Linked DNA regions of Homo sapiens: region 2 is linked to region 1. The links come from fine-mapping of genetic effects on gene expression. A gene starts in region 1. The other region holds a variant in brackets. All regions are shown on one strand. Distances are from middle to middle.

Region 1 (4,519 bases):
CATCTGTATGGAGATGCAGAGATCAACGTGCCCTAGCTGCTTCGAGTGGGCATCGTGATGCCCAGTGCCCCTCAGAGCCAAGATGCAGTACTGATGGTTATTCCTGAAGCGGAGGAGAGGCAGGTGGCCTCAGGTGCCTGACAGCTTCCTGGCAGAGTCCTCTTTGGGCTGAGTCAAACCCTTTGCAGTCTAGAAGGGTTTGGTGTGCAGGCTCTGCCCACATGGGACTTCCATGCCGTTTCCATTTCTTCCAAACCATAATGCTCTCCCTTGCAGAGGTGCAGAGTAGTTAGGTAAAGGAAAATCCCCCGGAGTCTCTCCATATCTGCTACAGTGGGCTTACGCGTTTCTTGCATTTTGGGGGCAGATCCCAGAGACAAGGAGGGCGGCACATGAGCAGACATGGCACCAGGCCCCTGCCCCCTTGGGTCACCCTGTTCCCTCCCCATCCCACAACAGCCGCTGACCAGAGCAGCTCTTCCCTCACAAGCCAGTTTGCTCCCTTTGCCCCTGAGGCTCCACGGGCTGCAGCTTCCCAGGTCTGGGGGGTCGCATTTTCATAGCCTTTGCATGTGTGTGTGTCTTTAAGACATGCCCGACAGAAACAAGAGTCTTGGAGATGACACGTAATTCACCTGCCCCGTGGATCATTTCAAACAGATAACGTGGGAAAGGTATAAGAAGGTATAAGTCATGAAAGTTGTTCTTGGAAAAAGCTCAGGAAGAGTTAGAGCCCTCCAGAATGAGCCAGGTGCTAATTTAGAACAGTCACCTGCCTGCCAATGATGATGACGTGCTCAGCCACCAAGCTGCGGGCCGGGAGAGGAGCCGTAATAAGCGATTCCACCAAGCCTTCCAGCCACTCCTTTGAAACCTCTTTAAAATGAAATCCTGAAATAGGACCGCATTTCCACAGGCATCAAGCTGTCAGCTTCAAAGGAGAACAGGCTTCTGAGGCCTGGCCCCTTCAGCGCGCAGCTGAGGCCCCCCTCCCCGAGGAGAGGAGCAGATGTTTGAGGGCAGAGGGCCTGTCCTGACAGCACCTGCGTGGAGGTGGCAGGAGGGGATTGTTTCTAGGCCAGGCGAGAGGAGCCTGGCAGCCCCTGGAGCCTCGAGCCGGGGGTGGCGGGGGCAGGAACTTCTACCTCCCTGCTCAGAGCCAAGAAGTCAATTTGAACCTTTGCTGGGGCTCGGTATTAACACGTTCTGCCTTGGAGGGCAAGCCGGTGGGGCCAGGAATAAGCATTCCTTTTAACAACTTCAGTTGAAAAGCAGCCACCGCCCCACCCGCTGCTGTCCCTGGCTCTCATCAGGTGAATTCAGCATTCCTGCCACCCTGCCAGTGCCTCTGTGATCCTGGGCATGAGTTGACCACTATGTACCTCAGTTTACCCATCCACAAAAAATGCAAAAGGCCAGGACTAAGCATGGGGGCGTGACGTGAACTCCCGCTCCTCCTCTGGTCAAGGGCTTCATGCTTAGAGGAAACCAGATAAGCCCTATTGCAACCCCACCTGGAGTGGAGTGGGGGAGGATGAGGAGGAGGGGGAGACCCTACCTTCCACAGGCCCAGGGACTCGAGGGGTGGGGCTCCATTAGGAGATCAGTCGGGGCATGGTGAAGGGGAGGAGAGGTTGTCAAGGCTCAGCTGCCTGGACAGAGAGGATGGAAATACTCCCTGTGTGAAAAAAGAAAAGGAAAAGACCCCAGATCAGGAGGCAGGAAATGCAGTTTGGCAGAGTTGGTTGATGCCACTTACTTCTGGACAAGAAGACTGGAGGCTTGGCCACCCTTGATGGAAATTGCAGCAGAACCATCTCTCTATTCTGTTGATTCCCGCACCAGGCTGGCAAATAGCTTTTGTCTTTTCTGCTTCCTTGTTGCAAAAGGGTACAAAAGCCTCCCACCCACCCCACCCCCAATCGCCCTTTGTGCCATTATCTTTCAAGGTGACTTAGCTTTTGAAGTCCCTGCCATCTGCTCTGCAGGCCTGTACTTTGCAGGATGTGAGAGCACCGCGTTCCCAGAATGCCTTCTGTTCTACCCGACGTGGCTACTGATAGCTCTGCCTGTGAGGGGAAAAGAAAGCTGCGCTGTGGCCCCCTTAAAGCCCAGTCCCTGCTGTCTCCCTCAAAAAGCCACTTAGGAAAGCCACGGCCTTGAGGTACCAAGAGAGTTCTTTGAGAAATGAGAGTGGAAACTGTGAGAGAGGCTGCTCTGCAGTCGAGTGCTGGGCACGTCTGACGATGCCTGGGAGAGGAAAAAATTCCATCAAAAAACTACCATGGTTTTCTTTAGAGGAACATATGTGCACTTTTGGCAAAACATGCCTTCTCAGGAGAGCTGGAATAGTTGGAACCAATGAACTCTGAAGTCATGTGATTCGTCCCTCTGTCTTCGTGCAGTCCTTAAACTATTCTGAAAAATGCATGAATCCAACACGAATCCTAGCATTTCTGCCATGCCCACTGAGGGCCAGGCAGGCATACAGCCTGGTTGGGGGGTGGGAGGGTGAAAAGTATCTCTTTTTGTGCTTGAAGGCCCCTGAGGAAGCCCCTAGGCTCCCGTGGTGAGTGTTCCCTGCGCTGGCCTAGCAGGGTGTTGGTGTCTTGAGCCCGAATCCTGTGCAGCATTGGCCCAACCCTTGCAGGTGGCCGCCACCCCTTTCCCCTGCAGCTGGCATAGCCAAGGTGCCAGGCTCTGCAAAGGGTAAGCTGCATCTGAATTGGGCACGAGGGGATGGTTGTGCCTTCCACATCTCCTTTTGTGAAAGATCTTCCCAGATGCAAACCCAGGATGGACTTGCCAAAGAGAAATCCCAGTAACTGGCTCTAATCTCTGTGCCACCAGCTGCCATTGTCTCGAAGTTCATTTGCAAACAACAGAAACCAACTGTGGCTGGGTTAAGTGGGAAGTTTATTAAACAATATTGGATAGGTCACATGGTCACCAGGCTAAGCGGCTCCCTAGCCAGGACCAAGATCCCATGTCATTCTCCAGTACTCCCAGGTTCATACCCCAGGACTTACACCACAGACACCCCCAATGCTGGGCACTGTCACTGGGACCACTGCCTCTGCTCTTTTGGAAACTAAATGTAGAGGCTTCTACTTGTCACCAAAAGGGATTTTAAACAGCCACTAGCTGCCACTTCAAGGTCTCAGGCAAGCATACTGCCTCGGCTGAGGGAGAGGTTAGAAAAAACAGCATCCAGCCAGGCGTAGTGGCTTGTGCCTGTAATCCTGGCGCTTTGGGAGGCCTAGGCAGGAGGTCTCGAGCCCAGGAGCTAGAGACCAGCCTAGGCAACAATGTGAAACCCTCCCTACAAAAAATAAAATCAGCAAGGCACAGTGGTATACACCTGTTTTCCCAGCTACTCAAGAGGCTGAGGTGGGAGGATCACTTAAGCCTGGGAAGTCAAGGCTGCAGTGAACCGTGATTGCACCACTGCACTCCAGCCTGGGTGACAGAACAAGACCCTGTCTCAAAGAAAAGAAAAAAGCCGCATCTTGAGAATTCTGCCTTCCAAAGTGGAGGTCCCCACTTCATAACATGGGGATCCCCTGAACACAGGAAGGAGGTTCAAATGCCAAACATCTGAAACTCAGTGTCCGCTCCAGCTGGAATGCTTGCTTTTCTTTCCTCTGCCCATAAAAGAAGGACCTGTGCCCTCGCCAGGGTCTGCCCTGGAGAGCTGACGCAAGAGGCACATTTGCCCCTGAGGAAGGCTGTGTGTCAGGAGTGAAGAGGGGCGTGCAGGCAACCCCTCCTCACCCCAGGTGCATGGAAGCCATCCTGGTACCCACCTCTGGGATGGAGGTAGGACAATTAATTACATGTTCTGTCTTTGGGTAGAAATGCTACTGAGCCATAGGGGCTGGATCACCACTGCTGCCCAGTATGGCCCACCAGACCACCTTCCACCATCCTGCAAAGCCCTGCAGAATTGCCAGTGCGCCCTGCAGTTTTTGTGACCACCAGCCCAGTCCCATTCGATTTTCATAGCCCTTGAGTGACAGCCCATCTGGGACAAGACTCAAATGATTGTCACATCTTTTCTTCTAACTCTTTAGCCAGCTGGGGGATTTAAAAATAATGAATTGGAACCGTTCGTGGTATAAGCCTCTCTCTTGACAGTGTGAATAATTTCCTCCAGCTGTCACCAGGGATCGTTTGAGTTCCTGTAAGTACTGGAGTCTCTCCTGGGCTCAAGAGAGGCACAGCCATCTAGGCCAGGCGGCCCTCTCTGCCTCTCCCCAACCTCCCCTCCTTCTGGAAGTGCAGGCAACAGCTCCCTGCTCCCCTTTCCCTCATTAGCCACAAGAGATCTGGAGCGAAAGTGGCCCAGCAGGCTGGGAGAAGGTTTTGAGAGGGCATTGCACCCACCGCGGCTGACGCAGCTCTTCACGCCAGAAGATGAAGCAGCCGTTCTTAGTGGCTCCTTGCACTGCCGCCTGAATCTCACCAGAAAGGATTCTGGGCTTTCCATCGCCTAAAGCAGAGAGCTCCCTAGTGCTAG
Region 2 (4,000 bases), 29 kb before region 1:
AGAGAATCACTGCTTCTGGGCCAGTCGTTTTGGGGGAAAAAACAAAACAAAAACATGGGTTGGTTCTGTTTAAAAGTAGTTTGCGCAATATATTTTGTCAAACTGTTGGTTGGTTCAGTAAAATAGAGTCGTATTTGTGTTGGGTTGGGAGTAAGAAGTCAGTGTGATTCATTTGGCTTTTAATATGCTGTGCGCGTTCACTTCATACTTGCTATTGAATTTTTGTTTGAATGTCTTGGCTGACCGCTTATATGGGGCAATCTGCAGAGTGATATATGTATTGATTCTGGCAGAAGCACCACATGGTTGTGCAAAAGTCTCTCAGTGATTCATAGTGGAAGGTTATCCACACACTACCTGTGTCCCTAACACGGTGTCTTCTTGGCAGAGTAAAATTAGGGAACCTTTCGGAATTTCTCACCACATCGTTCTACACATATCTGACTTTTCTGGATCCAGACTGTGATGAGAAGTTGTTTGACAATGCCAGCGAAGGGACTTTCAGTCCTGATAGTGATTCAGATTTGGTAGGATATCTGGAAGACACCTGTAATCAAGGTACAGCTTGGAATGCTTTTGTGGGTAGTTCGCTGAATTTATTTAAACTTTAGCATTGTGATAAAATTGCCCTAAGACTCAAATATAGACAATGATTGATAATTAAAAACAAGGAAAAACAAAAAAGAGGCTTCTGAAACTTGCATATATTAAAATGAATAAAATGCCCGTTTAAAAACCGAAACTGCAAATGATGTCCTTGAAAGTGGGGCATTTTTAAACCTAGAAGGACAAAGAGTTTCAGGAATGGGGACTTTTTTTCTTTTTTTTCTTCTCTCTCTCTCTTTTTTTTTTTTTTTTTTTGTTGTTGTTTGTTTTTGAGACAGGGTCTTGCTCTGTTGCCCAGGCTGGAGTGCAGTGGCATGATCATGGCTCACTGCAGCCTCGACCTCCTGGGCTCAAGCAATCCTCCCACCTCAGCCTCCCAAGTGGCTAAGACTATAGGCCTACAGGGAAGCACCACCATACCCAGCTAATTCTTTTATATTTTATAGAGATGGGGTCTCCTTATGTTGCCCTGGCTGGTCTTAAACTCCTGGGCTCAACTGATCAGCCTGCCTCGTCCTCCCAAAGTGCTGGGATTACAGGCATGAGCCACCGTGGCTGGCCAGGAATGGGGACTTTGCACAGAATACATACATTCTGAAGACAGAAACATACTGCTTGAATTTTCAAAGGAGTGGTAGAATGATCTAGGTTTGGTTGGATATGAGTGATGAAACCCTACGTATATAACATTTGTCAGTCTGAATAAGGTTTTGAGGTGATCTGTTTTTCACTTTTAGATAGTAGTTGGAATTAGGGCTGGGAGTTCCATAAGGCTTAGCTCACTCATGACAAATTAAAACAAAAAGCCCAGACTTCGGCTGCTATCCTTCAGGCTGTCTTACATATTATTCAGTTCATCTTGGGAGGACGAGATGTAAACACTATCTTGACTGGTAGTTTTTTTTTCCTGGGATAAAGTTTTTCCAAACAGCAAATTTCTACACACATACATTATCTCTGTAAATCTCTTCTTACTCTTCAGGGGTGAGTGGGAGTGCAAATATCGATATCTCAGTGTTGTCATCTGCTAAGCCTACTCAGTGCTGCTTGCTACCCATGGTCACTATTGTGTAGTCATATTTCTACAGCTTGGTTTCATTGGCTCTTTTTCTTGCTTGTCCAATTACAGAAAGCCAAGACGAACTTGACCATTATATCAACCACCTTCTGCAAAGCACATCGTTGAGGTCCTATCTGCCTCCTCTTTGTAAGAACACAGAAGACCGCCATGTCTTCAGTGCTATCCACTCCACGCGGGACATACTTTCTGTGATGGCAAAAGCAAAGGGTTTGGAAGTTCCATGTATGTTATTAACTCTTTTCTGCCTGTTAAAATACCTTCTTTTATCAAAGTAATGCAGGGACATAATTTAAAAGCCAAAGAATCCTAGAAGACAACAAAATGCCCCCCACGTGCTTCTACTTAGAGGTAACCACTTTCAACTCTTTTAGCTCTTTCTTCTGGTATGTACATATCTCCATATTTCTCAAATAATGTGTACATACTGCTGTCTTCACATGCATTGACTTGATTCGGTACTTGTTGACTTTCGATTAAGTGGGTAAGGATCTGGCTGTCTTAAATCACCACTCCTCTGCTTCACTCCCCCTAACCCACCAAGGGGTTAAAGTTTAGTTAAATCAGTATTCACTCTTTATATCATTGTATGTACACAAATATTTCCAACTGAGCATTATAGTATACTCTGTTTATATTCCCATTTTTACTCTGTTTTTTCGAAAGGTAAAGTT[A/G]CCCTGGCTTTTCATTTGCTTTGCTTTCTTTCTACATCTTCCAGTGGCCTCGCAATACAAATTTCCACAAGCTCAGTCGTATCGGTGAATCTCTCAATTCCACTGCCTTTCTTAGAGTCCACGAGTCTCCTTCTATCTGTGCTGACTGCGCTCTAGGCCTGTTGCATATGTGTCATCCTGGGAGTTTCCCTGGCTTGTCTCCTTAGTTGGATTCCGTGGTTCCTGAATCTGCTGTGTTCCCCTTTCTCAATGTATTCTTCTGTTTTGGTGGAGCACATTCTAGAATAGTTTCAGTAGGTTTCAAAAAAAAAAAAGTGAAGTGGAAGAGGGCATGGTGGTGACAGCTCTCGACTTACTTGTTTTTGAACTGCACTGCCCTCTGCCCCCTTCTGGCTTGGTTGCCCTCAGTGTCTGAGGTGCTTTTTACCCTGGGATCTTCCCCGGAGGCTTCCTTGACTTGTCTCCTGGGATGGCTCTCCTGTGTTCTGTATCCCAACTCTTCTTTCTTGGTTCACTCTTATTTTAATAGAGGACATGCAGTAGTTTCCTGAGAAACAGCGCACGGTGGGTAAAATTGTTGAAACCTTGCCATTTTAAAAATGTCTACAAATGTTCCAGACCCATTTGAGAGTTTGGCTGGGTATAGAATTCTAGATTAAAAATACATTTTTTTGGCTGGGCGTGGTGGCTCATACCTGTAATCCCAGCACTTTTGGAAGCTGAGGCAGGCGGATCACTTGAGGCCAGGACTTTGAGACTAGCCTGGCCAACATGGTGAAACGCTGTCTGTACTAAAAATACAGAAATGAGCCAGGTTTGGTGGCCTGCACCTGTAATCCCAGCTACTCAGGAGGCTGAGGCAGAAGAAGCACTTGAACCCGGGAAGCAGAGGTTGCAGTGAGCTGAGATCGTGCCACTACACTCCAGCCTGGGTGACAGAGCAAGACCCTGTCTCAAAAAAAAAAAAAAAAGACATTTTTTTGCAGATTTTTGAAAGTATGACTTATTGTCTTCTTGCTATCAGTGTGTTGGTGTTGCTGTTGAGAAATCTAAACCTGGGCAGGCACAGTGGCTCATGCCTATAATCTGAGCAATCTGGGAAACTGAGGCAGGAAGATCGCTTGAGTCCAGGAATTTGAGACCAGCCTGGGCAAGATAGTGAGGCCCTGTCTCTACAAAAAATAGAAAAAATAGCCAGGCATGGTGGCACATGCCTGTAGTCCCAGCTACTTGGGAGTCTGAGGCAGGAGGATCACTTGAGCTCAGGGAGGTTGAGGTTGCAGTGAGCTGTGATCACACCACTGCACTCCAGCCTGAGTAACAGAACGAGAACCTGTCTCAAAAAAAAAAAAAAATGTATTAGCCCATTCTTGCATTGCCATAAAGAAATACCTGAGACTGGGTAATTTATAAAGAAAAGAGGTCTAATTGGCTCAGGGTTCTGCCGGCTGTACAGGAAGCATGATGCTGGCATCTACTTGGCTTCTAGGGAGGCCTCAGGAAGCTTCCAGTCATGACGGAAGACAAAAGGGGAGCAGACACTTCACATGGCGACAGTAGGAACAAGAGAGAGTGGTCACACACTTTTGAACAACCAGATCTCATATCCCTTGTGAACTCAGAGTGAGAGCTCACTTATCAC

Evidence for each region. PIP is the estimated chance that this variant, and not a neighbour inherited with it, causes the effect.
Region 2: its variant is the best candidate, but not a certain one, in a credible set for the expression of PHKA2-AS1 in blood mononuclear cells (TOPMed, PIP 0.53).

Annotation. Positions count from the first base shown.
Region 1 is chrX:18,887,668-18,892,186 of GRCh38, reverse strand. PHKA2-AS1 (PHKA2 antisense RNA 1) reads right to left here and starts at 1,891. Exons shown (of 3, transcript NR_029379.1): 1 at 1,559-1,891.
Region 2 is chrX:18,916,590-18,920,589 of GRCh38, reverse strand. PHKA2 (phosphorylase kinase regulatory subunit alpha 2) reads left to right here. Exons shown (of 33, transcript NM_000292.3): 18 at 389-558; 19 at 1,736-1,909. Among named protein-coding and RNA genes, the nearest start is that of PHKA2-AS1, 28 kb to the right of the region's middle. The variant A/G (reference allele first, on the strand shown) is at 2,359.